Linked DNA regions of Homo sapiens: all the other regions are linked to region 1. Evidence: fine-mapped expression QTL. A gene starts in region 1. Each other region holds a variant in brackets. All regions are shown on one strand. Distances are between the middles of the regions.

The links. PIP is the estimated chance that this variant, and not a neighbour inherited with it, causes the effect.
Region 2: its variant is the best candidate, but not a certain one, in a credible set for the expression of FHL1 in blood mononuclear cells (TOPMed, PIP 0.60).
Region 3: its variant is the best candidate, but not a certain one, in a credible set for the expression of FHL1 in aorta (GTEx, PIP 0.54).

Annotation. Positions count from the first base shown.
Region 1 is chrX:136,195,308-136,199,587 of GRCh38, reverse strand. FHL1 (four and a half LIM domains 1) reads right to left here and starts at 2,541. Exons shown (of 6, transcript NM_001159699.2): 1 at 2,454-2,541. The coding sequence starts at 2,475.
Region 2 is chrX:136,156,571-136,160,727 of GRCh38, reverse strand. It overlaps a transcript of FHL1 not described here. Among named protein-coding and RNA genes, the nearest start is that of FHL1, 38 kb to the left of the region's middle. The variant T/C (reference allele first, on the strand shown) is at 2,481.
Region 3 is chrX:136,119,532-136,123,811 of GRCh38, reverse strand. No RefSeq gene overlaps it. Among named protein-coding and RNA genes, the nearest start is that of FHL1, 75 kb to the left of the region's middle. The variant G/A (reference allele first, on the strand shown) is at 1,942.

The sequences.
Region 1 (4,280 bases):
AAGCCTTAGCCAATGAATAGGACACTTGTGTAATAGACATGCTAATGCACCTGGAGGTGTCGTCAGACATTTGGGAATAAATACCTAAGTAGCTGCAATGAGACGGAGCTCATGAGTCACGGCTGAAAAGTAGTCTTTCATACAATTTCATACAAAAATCAGAAAGTGTTTTTTCCCTTCAAAATAGAACGTGTACAGAATGATTCAATGTAATTAGCAACTTCACTGGTATGCTGCATTTAGAAAAAAAACAAATCTTTTTTGGGTCACTGATGTATAACTAATGCCATTTTAGATTATATCGGGTGTCAGGAGGGTTCGATATAGATTATTAAAAGAAAAATTATGTGCCACTGAACTTCCTGCAGTCCAGATTCAATTCTAGTACCATTTTGTCTGTATATGAAGATTTTTCATAATGTTGCACAGATTACGTGCAACACAGCCCCTCTTTCATATGGGAAAAAAAGCATTTCTGACCCGGCAGCAAAAGAGCATGTGTTTTTAGTTTCTCCAGCTGTGGTGAAGTAGTAGGTAGTCATTTGGTGGTCATCAAAAGCACAAAATGTTCAGTTTCACTCTCACTCAAATCTTCTGTATTTTAAGAAGCCAATCCAGTTGGATTACTTTCCTCTCATCCTACCCTCTCATTTTCCATCCCTGCCCTGAGAAAAGACTGGCGGGCTTGTGCGGCCCACTGAGCAGCAGCTGGTGAAGGGAATCGATGGCTGTGTAATATGGCAAGTGACCTGATCCCCCTCCACACCCCAAACCTGGTTTTCGACTTGAAAGGCCAAAGGCTAAAGAAATTGAATCTACATAATTTTGCAGACAGAAAGTCTTCAATGTCAAGAGTATACATTGTTTTTGTCCTTGAAATGTCCTCTCAGTATATGGATAGTCACTAAAAATGGATTTGGATCCAATTATCCTAGCTTCTATTTTGCCCATACTGAGCCCGTTTCAGGGCAACACTGATTTTCTATGAGGACTTCTCTGTCTCATGGACTGATTCTTCTCTGCTTTCATGAATCTATTAACCTAATGCAATACAAAATGCAATTTCCTGAATTCAAAAATCATCTAAAAGGTATAAATAATTGGTCCCATTTAGCCACAGTTATTAGAGCCTCCAGACTTACATACACAAGAACGACATAAGAATTTGGTGCAATTTAAAACCCAAGGTTGGGTATGCTATAAACTTTCTGTCACTATTTAAACTTTTAAACTTTCTGTCACTATTCTGTCACTTAATTAGTAAACAAAATGAGAGTTATTCTACCAGGTAACATGCATTTAAGGTTCATCAGGACAACTAGCACAGCTGACTAGTTTGCCTACACCCAGAGAATGTGTATCTTGGCTGATAACCACAATCTCAAGCATTTGGTACCATGTTTGTGAAACAGCTCCTGAGGGTTGGAAAAAAAAAAAAACCAGACAACTTTTGAACACTTGGGAACAGGGAAGACATTACATATTAATTCATTAAGGTAGGGCATTCCATTGCAGCATATTTAAAACCCCAAAAAGAGAAATTTCCTAAAGTATTTCCATTGTTTAAATATTGACAGGCAATGAGTTTTAAAAAATGATTTTTCAAAAAAAAAAAAAAACATAGATAATGACATCCCTTAATCTGAAAGCTGGGAGACAGGATGAAGTGCCTTCTTTATATCTAACCGTCTGACTTTACCAGCCCCAAGAAAGGGAACCGTTACTTAGGCAGAGGGCCACAGGGCCACAGCCACCCTCCTGGCTTCAAATAACTGGGCTTTTGGCCCCTCAGCCCCTAGTTCATAGATTTCTTGTCGATGGCCAAAGGGCTTCCTTAATTGTAAGGTTACAAAACCAGAAGAAAATGCTCATGTCCCAAGGAGTCCAAAATGTGCCCCTTTTTCTGCTAAAAACAATTAATAACATACTTAGCATATCAAAAGGAACATAGCTGTTACTTCGGGAAGATTTAAAACATTGTCAGCAAAAGGGAAGATGTGCTAGGTCATTATGGACTTTCTTAGTTACAAATGTTCCTCCTTTCAGCTCCACATTCGATTTACCTTCTCCAAACACCTTGGATGTAAAGCACTGTCAAGATGAAGAATTGTATCTTATAAAAAAGAAAGCCAAAAATTCCTAACCAGAAAAACCTTTCCTCCCACAATCTCTTATAGTTTCATGAGATGTCCTGAAAAAGGTAAAAATATAGTGGTAACATGTTTATATACTTCTTTTTAAAATAAATCACTCAAACTGTTCATTGTACTTGAACAATATTTTGTCTTTGAAATAGCATGAAAGGCAAAGGCAAAACAGAGACAAGCTATAATTTATTTACTATTCAGACAAGACTAAAATCATTTCATCAAAAACCATCTTTTAGCCCAATGACGGATTCACTGCCCTAACAAAACTGTGCTCAATATAAGATAAAGAGCATGAAGTTTTACCTGAGTGTCTATGGGAAGCCATGGCTCAGAGACCAAGTTCAGGAGCAGCACCTAGACCAGTCTTCCCTCAACCCCAGCTGATAAGGCTGTGGCTCATTTGTGAACATACATTTAAGGGGAAGCGGCTAACACAAAAATAACCGAGAGCAGATGTCCCACCCCTCCCCAGAGATCACAACCTTAATCCCACTAGAAAATTCTTAACCATTTTAGGTGATCCAAGGGAGAAGAATAGGACCCAGTAAAAATACCAAACGCTACATATAAATACCTGCGGGGCTACTCAGCATCCAAATTAGCTCCAGAGCCAGAGAGGCCACATAGAAAGTCATCCCTGTACCGGAATAAAATTTGGACTCGGCTCTGGCATAGCTTAACGCTGAGCCAACCTTATTAATCCACTTTATATGCCTCAAGAGCTTGCATTTGGCCCTGTAAATAATACATTTTTGTGCTGTTAATGATAAAAGTAACTCTAAGAGATAGACTTATGTTACCAGTGTAACTCAAGGAGATTAGACAGTATGAATATAGAGATTAAGGGGATTATAGATGTTGTCACTCTATGTCCTCCTTAGTATGTTCCAGAGATCAGCAGATTACTGTACAGGAAAGGAGAGTGATCGTAATCTCCCCACCTCCTTAACGGCAGACAGCACAGAACAAGATGGGGAGACTATGCCTATCCCCATCACACACACAATGAAGACATTTTGTCTCACAAACTCAACCTCTTGTTTTTCAGCATCAGGGACAATAAAAGGAAAAACATGAATGAAAATGAAGACATCAACCTAAAATGTTGTAATAGCTCAACAGGCCATCAGATGTCTGGGGGCTGGCTATTAGGAGCATGTTCTAGGAAAAGAAAGCCCCCAAGTCCCTCCAGGACCTTCTTCCACATTCCTTCTCTGGCCTTACCCTTAGCCCCCTTTCCCTCACTCCCACCTCACTGGCCTCCTCACTGTCCCCTGTGCCCAGAGTCATGGTTGTTCCTTTCCCTACTTCAAGTCTGCTGGTATTGCACTGATTTCTCTCCTTGCTGTCTGATCTCCTGCTTTGCTCCATGAAGGCAGGGATTTAGTACTGGAGCTCACTGCAGTGGCCCCAGAGCCTAGAACACTGCCCAGCTCCCAGGAGGCTCTCAATAACTATTCCTTGAAAGAATGAACTAAATAACTGAAAAATCCATCAAGCCTCCAAAACATAGTCCCACCTGCAATCCTGAAAGTGGTTTTGGCCACTCAACTTCAAGGAAGGCAGCTGACCTTCTCGCTGGTACAGACACCTTTATAGCCACTGTCTTGTTTAAGTGGTTTTGGCCCTATTCACACATCTCCCCTACCAGGTTGAGGGCCAGGGCAGTGCTTTGCTTGTCTTCATGTTCCTATAGCACACAGTAGGTGAGCAGTAAATGCTCCATGAATAAATGAATGAATGAGTTCCCCAATTCTTACGATCTTCAAATGTTTAAGGAAAAGTTATTCTAAAAGACAACTGACATCAGTAACTCCCAGTTAGCTAGAAAATGACACAATAAAAGCCAGGTTGTTACGAGTAAATTTATTACATGTTAGAGGAAAAAAATAAGCCTGGGAAAAGAAGAGAAGCTACACTGTGCTCTGGCTCCACGCCTTTCTAGTCTCTTTCTCATCCAGCCTGATTAAATTATGGTGCGGAGATTAGCCAGTTGTAACAACACCACACCCCTAAAATAAACTGAAACTTTTCACCTAGAGGAAATTCTCTTACTTTATTAGATGATTAACCTTAATGAACCCTGAATTTTTTATTTTAGCAAGTTATATTTTTAGGAAGAGCCCATGT
Region 2 (4,157 bases), 39 kb after region 1:
GAGGACACCTAACAGATCTGTACACAAAGAATTATTTCCAATATACAAAATAAAGTTTAATAAGCTAAACAAGCCATGAGTTTGAGACCAGCCTGGACAATATAGCGAGACCCTGCCTCTACGAAACTAAAACATTAGATGGGTGTGGTGATGCACACCTGCAGTCCCAGCTACTCAGGAGGCTGAAGCAGAGGGATTGTTTGCGCCCAGGAGGTCAAGACTGCAGTGAGCCACGATCGTCACTGTTTTCCAGCCTGTGTGACAGAGCAAGACACAGTTTCAAAAAAAACAAACAAACAAACAAAAAAACTAAACAGGCGAACTCTATAATCAACTCTTCCCTTTATTGGTATTTTTCAGATAATCACATGAACTATGAGGTTTTTCACCCCAGGTCTTATCACAGACCTGACAGACAACCACTTCAAGATACACAGTGCTTGAGTGATGGCTCCCATTTGCCTTCTAATCCTTGATGGCTTCTCAGTTTTTTTCTTTCCCTTTGCAGCTGCAATGTCCCTCTTAGACCTGATCCTCCCCTCACCCCCACTACCACGTACCACAGAATGTTCTGTTCTCATAGCCAACTCAGGAAAGCAATGGGTACTTGTAATTGCCCATCATAGTTACCCAGGTCCAATATAAAGAAACTATTTACATTAATGCCTATAAAAACCGAATCTTTTCACACACGTTTACTGTAGAGCTGGCCATACTGAGTAAGTGCATGGAAGTTCTGGCATTGGGCCTATGCTTCTACAAGCCATGCAATAATAGCCTTTGGCCCAAAGCAATCAAACTCTGACCTGGATATTGGCTCAGAGTTGGCATAAGTTCACCAACTGTCACTGTTGCTAATGATACCACAAATGCAAGGGTCAAAAGAGGGCCCACTGGGTTGTAGGGCAGGGAATTTGCCAAATCTGGGACTCCACTGCAAAGATGGCATGATGTTTCAAGGGTGGCAAGCGAAGTCCCAACCCACTGCTCCCACTGACCTATCTACTGACTATTGTGCAACTAGACATAGCATTGGAGGTACTGGGCAGCTCTCCTGGAACCTCATACTTCCCCTTTTCAGGGGCTCGTGCCACAAGTTACATCACTCAAGGAGAAACACATCTCTTATTTCACTCATTCTGAAAAACAAACACTGGAATTTATTTATTTATTTATGTATTTATTTAAGACAGGGTCTCACTCTGTCTCCCAGGTTGGAGTACAGTGGCGTGATCTCGGTTCACCGCAACCTCTGCCTCCCGCGTTTAAGTGATTCTCCCACCTCAACCACCCGAATAGCTGGGAATACAGGCACATGCCACCACACCCGGCTAATTTTTGTATTTTCAGTAGAGACAGGGTTTCATCATGTTGGCCAGGCTGGTCTCAAACTCCTGGCCTTAAGTGATCCACCCACCTCAGCCTCCCAGATTGCTGGGATTACAGGCATGAGCCACTGTACCTGGCCACAAACAGTAGACTTTAATCCACACGGTAATAATAAAAAGCTCCTGATCTAGTCTTTGTATTTCTGAAACCCATACATTTGAAGAGTTTTTTTTTTTAATTAGTAGACTTTTTTTTTTTTTAGCAGTTTTAGGTTTACAGAAAAACTAAGCAGGAAGTACTGAGTTTCTGTATACCTCCTTAGCATCCATCTCCCAGTTTCCCCTATTATTAATATCTTGTATTGATGTGGTACATTTGTCCCAATTGATGGGCCAACGTTAATACATTATAATGAACTAAAGTCTAGGGTTTACATTAGGGTTCATTCATTGCGTTGTGCATTTTATGGGTTTTGACAAATGTTGAATGGGTTCTTTAATATCTTTATGGCCCATTCTGAAAAACAATAAATCACCTTATCTCAGGACAATTTTAATTGCTTTACAATTATCAAAGGAAGTTTCCTAGGAATATTATAATGTAAACTATTCACTTATTTTTAATGATTCGTGGCTTCAAAGACGGTCATAACACAGCCCAGCAAGTATATTCAACTTTGATTATCCAAAAACCATCCTTTCACAACTCTCCAATTTCCAGTACAGCTCGAAACTGGAAAGGAGTGTGAAAAAAGTGTTGGATCACAGGAGAAACAGCCTCCAAGATGCTATCTGACACATTGGAATTAGTCTGCTGCCCTCTCGGTCTGGAGATGTTTATAAAAATGGCTTTCTCATGAGAAATCAGAGCAGTGCAAGAGAAGTGGCATCAGGATACGGGAAAGACATGGAGGAGGAAAATCAGGGAAGGAAGATAGGGCAGAAACAGTAGAAATCGAGAGTGGCAAGAGGAGACGACGCATGCCGAAGTAATAGCAACAGAACAGAGAGCCAGCGAGATATTTTTTGACACTTGGATTTTTCTAGAAGGTGACAAACGAAGGGACAAACTCCATCTCAATGCAGCAGCCTTTAAATTGCTCAATAATTATTAGTTCAATTAAATATATCAATGAGAGTAATAACAGCATA[T/C]GAAAAGCTTGCTTTGCACCTAAGTGTGTAAAGACAGTACACCTTTCATGCACAGAAAATTCCCTCTGAAGCCTTCAAATCTTTTGTAATCCTCAAGGGATAGGGTTATTAATACATAGTAATTTTATACAGAAACATATATACACACACTAGCTGGAGGGATGGGTGGATGGATGAATGATTAGACAGATAGATACATATAAAACCTTTATTCTCAGTCTTCATTTTTACTTTACAAATAAGTACGAAGCAAAATTCAAATTTTACTTCTCTGGTTCTTGAGGGATTTAACACCTCACTGTAACTACTTGAGAAGAACATACACTGCTTTTCTGTCTATCAGAATTGTTTTTCTCTTGGCTGTAATTTCTCTTCAATTCAAGTACATAATGAAACTATTTACTAAGTAGCTTACTTGCAGAGGATGAGGGAAAGATTCTAGGAAATCAATACCTAGAATTTCTCTGTAGTATTATTTTAAACATAGAGAAGACAATTGCATTTTGGACATAAATATAGTCTTTTTATAGAGGAAGATCCACAAACTTTCAAATCTGAGTTTTGAAAGTGGCTCTCACACAAAAGCATAACGGGATATCTGGGGGAAAGGGGCTGGGGGAAGAATGTTACTGGAAAAGGGGCAAGGATAAACTTGTGGAGGTGATAAAAACATTCCACATCCTGATTGGGGCAGTGGTTTCATGGGTATATACATCTGTCTAAACTCATCAAATTGGAGGCTTTAATTGGATGCCGGTTTTTGTACCTAAATCATGCTCGGTGAAGTTGATATTTTAAAAGTGGCTCTAACAAAGGCCATCTGCTATAAGATGCAAGTATAAACTTTCACTTCCTCATATTAGTTTGGCTGCTTGGTTTCTTTCCTTAGTGTGATTAGCTGTGCTTAGTGCATTGGAAAATTCCTTCCTTACAAGAGGCAGACCTTCTGTGGCCTAGAAGGGATTGGGTCTAGGGTTTGAAAACTTGTGTTGACCCTGGCATCTGAAGGTGTGGAGTCTTTGACAAGCAACTTAACGTGCCTCTTTAGCCTCTAGAAGCTATGCGGCTGAGGACTTTATCTTTTCATTGTTGTAGGTGAAATGACGATCATTTACAGGGTAGTTGCTAGAACGTGTTGAAAAACAAATTTTGTTAAGTCAAATGTCTAAATCCACTGCTCTGGCTTAGTGATATAAATATTTTTGGACCGATAATTTGCAGGTCTGCCTATGTGTGTGTGTGTGTGTGTGTGTGTGTGTGTATTCCTTAGTCTCTGAGAAACCTGGGGGGAAACCTGTTACTTCAGTCCACCTGGCCACCCGAAAGTGCAGGTGATTGATTATGTCTGTAGGCAGACTTGCACTCAGCTTCCCAAACCAGAATGACGCATAAAACTAGACCTGGCAGAGTGCACTGAAAAACCAATCCTTAATGTCTCATAAATCATACATTTCAAATCTGACAAGAATCAAACAGCTTTATCCACACTCTAAAACTAAAAGTGAGTGACAAGACTTATAAATTAATCAAGTATAGAAATTTAGTTTTGTGCCATCCTTGTCAAAACAATCTTGCCAATAAAGCCTTTGCATTCCCAGCTATCATTTCCTTAGTACTGAAAAGGAAATTTAAAACCTTGTGACTGTTACAAATTCTTGTTATTAGAAAGTCTACAGA
Region 3 (4,280 bases), 76 kb after region 1:
ACAAAATTTAAAAATGCAATATAATAACCTTTTACATAACATTTGCATTGTAATAAGTGTGATAAGTAATCTAGAGATGATTTAAAGTATACGGCAGGATGTGCATAGGTGATATGTGAATACTGCAACATTTTCTATCAGGGATTATACCTGTGGATTTTGGTGTTCACCAGTGAGTGGTCCTGGAACCAATCTCCCATGGATATCAAGAGCGAGACAACTGTATAAGTCATGGCCAATATAAAGGAAACCCCTCCAAGGGCTCCTAATGCGGAATAAAATCTAAACCTATGTCCATGGCCTGCAAGGCCCTGCATGCCTGTCCCTTGCCCCCCTCCCCCATCTCAGCTCCTACCAATTAGCCTGTCCCTTCATTGAACACACGAAGCTTGTTTCCATTTCAGGGCCATTGTGCTTGTTTTCCTCTCAGCCTACATCACTCTTCCCCACACTTTGATATGGCTGGCTTCATAGACCCCAACCCCAGCTGTCACATTGTCCTGTTTTTACACCTTCGGAGTGCCTATAACTATCAGAAATGATCTTCTTTGTTTACTTATCATCTCATTCTCCCACTAGCATGTAAGTGGCGCAAGGAATTTTTGTCCCTTTTGTTCACTGTGCTATCCCAAGTGACCAGAACAGCACCTGGCAGCTAGTAAGTGTTGAAATAAATATTTAATGAATGAACAGATGATTAAGGACTAACTTAGTTGTGACCCAGATACATAAATAAATCATAGGGTTTGGAAGAAGAGGAGAGAAACAAAAGAAAGACAAGAAAGAAAATTTTAAAGAGGAGGTCAGATATAAACTGGGAGATAGATTGAAACGATGATGATTCAGAACACATTTTATTGTTTTTAGGTATAATCACTCTGATTTGCTGTGGCTCTTCCCTGGATCCTCCGTCAGTTCATTATATTTTAAAAGCCTAACTACATCAATGGGGATGCCATTCAAGCAAGAAAGTCCTTTGAAAATGTAGAATAATTAGCCCTCCTCTAACTTTATCTGTTTTATAAATAATACTCTTGGCATTATTAAGAAATTGACAACTAGGCCGGGCAAGGTGGCTTATGCCTATATTCCCAGCACTGAGAGGCTGAGGCAGATGGATGGCTTGAGCCCAGGAGTTTGCAACCAGCCTGGGTAACAGGGAGAAACGAAACCCTTTCGCCACACACACACACACACAAATTAGCCAGGCATAGTGGCACATGCCTGTAGTCCCAGCTACTCAGGAGGCTGAAGTGGGAGGATCACCAGAGCCTGGGGAGGTCGAGGCTGCAATGAGCTGTAACAGCACCACTGCACTCCAGCCTGGGCAACAGAGTGAGACCCTATCTCAAAATAAATGAATAAATGAATGAATAAATAAATACATAATAAATAAATAAATAAATAAATAAATAAATAAATAAATAAATATTAAAAAAAGAAAAGAAAAGAAATTGACAACTGATTAGCTGTTGACTAGCTTTGGGCAGTAATGATTTTTCCAAACCTCAGTCTCAAAACCTCAGAAGGGGATTACGTTAGCTCAGGAGTCACAGATGCAAAGGGGCCTCCCCCAGGGTCAGCAGGTCATGCAACTGATGGAAGTGAGCCTACAGGAGGACCCTGAGAAACTGGATGGAGTGCATATGCACCCAGTATGTGCCATGCTGCAGTGTAGCCCTGAGATGGCCAGGTTTACCCACTTTTTCAAGAAAAGGCAGAAATCCAGATTTTTATGACTTGTAAATGTTGGCAACTAATTTAAATAGTTTTAAAATACCACCAGGGCCAAGTAAAACATGCCTACAGGCTGAACTTGGCTCACAGACCCCTGTGCTGGATTTCTAAGGTCCTTTCCAACTTCTCAAATGCCTCCCGTCTATGAAATTTCTTTTTAAAAGTTGACACAACATCTGGGTAAACATTCTAAAACCCTGACTA[G/A]CATAAAAACCTTTTTTAAGATAAAAAATATTGTTTCAAGTAAAATAAATGTTCACTGTATACTTGATTTCTGGCCAATAACATACTAGATATTTTGATAAAGTTGTTTATTATTTAATTAGGCATAAAGCAAGGAGAACCAGCAATTCAAAGAGAGAGGACTATGCTAAGTGTGATGTCTTAAGGGAAAAATAGAGAAACGGAGGGACTGACTTCTCTAGGTGAGGAGTTGGTGTGAATTTATGTCTACTGCAAAAAACAAAACTCATCCAGAACATTAACTGCAGAGTCCAGATCTTGGTCCTTGAGAAAATTTTAATCTGATTGGATCTGATTTTCAGTTCATTAAAGAAAACAAGACATTTAATGCCAACACCCAAGAATTTTCCACGTTTTTTAGAGAAAGAACTATAATTATGGAAATAGCCAGTCACCCAAGGAGCATATTAAATACTTTAACTATTAGAAGACAGGTTTCTGGAACAACCAAAGTAAACAGTTTCACATTAACTTTTCTCAGATATGATAGTATTGGCTTAGAATTTTTATGATAATCTTAAATCCATTAGTGAGGTCAATTGTTTCCACATTACCAAAACATACTAATGTGATAATTTTTTAAAGCCTTGTTACTGTGCTGGACATTGTAAAACACAGGAAGCCCTGAAACAACAACCTAAAAATATATATTAACAACCTTTGATTTTAAACTTTGATTGATCATGGTGATTTTTTGTATCTTATTCAAAATGTTATAGTAACAATCTGAAAATAAAATTAAGAAAACACTTCAGTTTACAATAGTATCAAAAAGAGTAAATTACTTAGAAATAAATTTAACAAAAGAGATGCAAAACTTCTATTCTGAAAAGTACAAAACATCATGCAAAGAAACTAAAGAAGACCTAAATAAATGGAAACATGTTCCATGTTCATGGTGCAAAAGATTTAATATTGTTAAGATGCCAATATTCCCCAAGCTGATTCATAATTTAATACAATCCCTATCAAAATTCCAATAGCAGTTTTTGCAGAAATGGCAAAGCCAATCCTCAAATTCATTTGGAATTACGAGGGGCCCTGAATGGCCAAAACAATATTGAAAAAGAAAAATGAAGTTGGAGAACTCATACTTCCAAATATCAAAACTTACCACAAAGCTACAGTAATCAAAACAGTGTGCTATTGGAATAAGGATAGACATATAGAACAATGGAATAGAATTAAGAGTCAAAAAATGAACCAATAAGTCTATGATCAACTGATTTCAACATGGATGCCAAGTCCATTCAATGCGGAAAGAAAGAATAGCCTCTTCAACAAATTCTGGGATACCTGGATCTCCAAGTGCAAAAGGAATGAAGTACTGATACAAGCTACAACATGGGTGAACCTTGAAAACATTATGCTAAGCGAAAGAAGCCAGTCGTTAAAAACTTACATATTTATGGTTCCATTTATGTGAAATAACTAGGTAAGCTAATTTGTAGATACAGAAGATAGATTATTGTTTACCTAGGGCTAGAGAGTTGGTAGGAAATAGGGAATGCCTACTAATGGCTACAGAGTTTCTTTTGGGGTGATGGAAATGTTCAAAATTGATTTTGGTGATGGTTGCACAATTCTATGAATACTAAAAACCATTGAACTGTATGTTATTTATTTATTTATTTATTGAGGAGTCTCACTCTGTCACCCAGATTGGAGTACAGTAGCATGATCATAATTCACTGCAGCTTCAAACTCCTCAGCTCAAGCAATCCTCCCACCTCAGCCTCCCTTGTAGCTGGGGCCACCACAGGTGTGTACCACCATGCCTGGCTAATTTTGTTGATTTTTGTAGAGATGGAGTCTCACTATGTTGCCCAGGATAGTCTTGATCTCCTGGGCTCAAGTGATTCCCCACCTTGGCCTCCCAAAGTTCAGGGTGTCAGGCATGAGCCGCCACTCCTGGCCTAACTGTACCTTTTAAATGGGTGAATTGTCCGGTATTTGAATGATATCTCAATAAAGCTGTTAAAATGTGATGGTATTCTTCCACACTTACAGAAATGTAAGATGTATTTATTTCACAGGCATTGGTAGAGTACCTACTATATGCCATGCACTGTGCTAGGTGCCATTGGAGCCAAAACAAAATTTTATATCACTACTGTCTCAGAGTTTATAGTACGGTTCTGTGTATCAATAACTAGAACACATGGAAGAAAGCCAAGACTGAGCCCAAGGAGGCACCAAAAGTTATGATGAGAATAAAGTCAATTCTTAATGGAGGAAGTACCTTTTGGGGCTTTGGAGGGTAGCGGGACTTTGACAGGTACAGGTCAATGAGAAAGGCA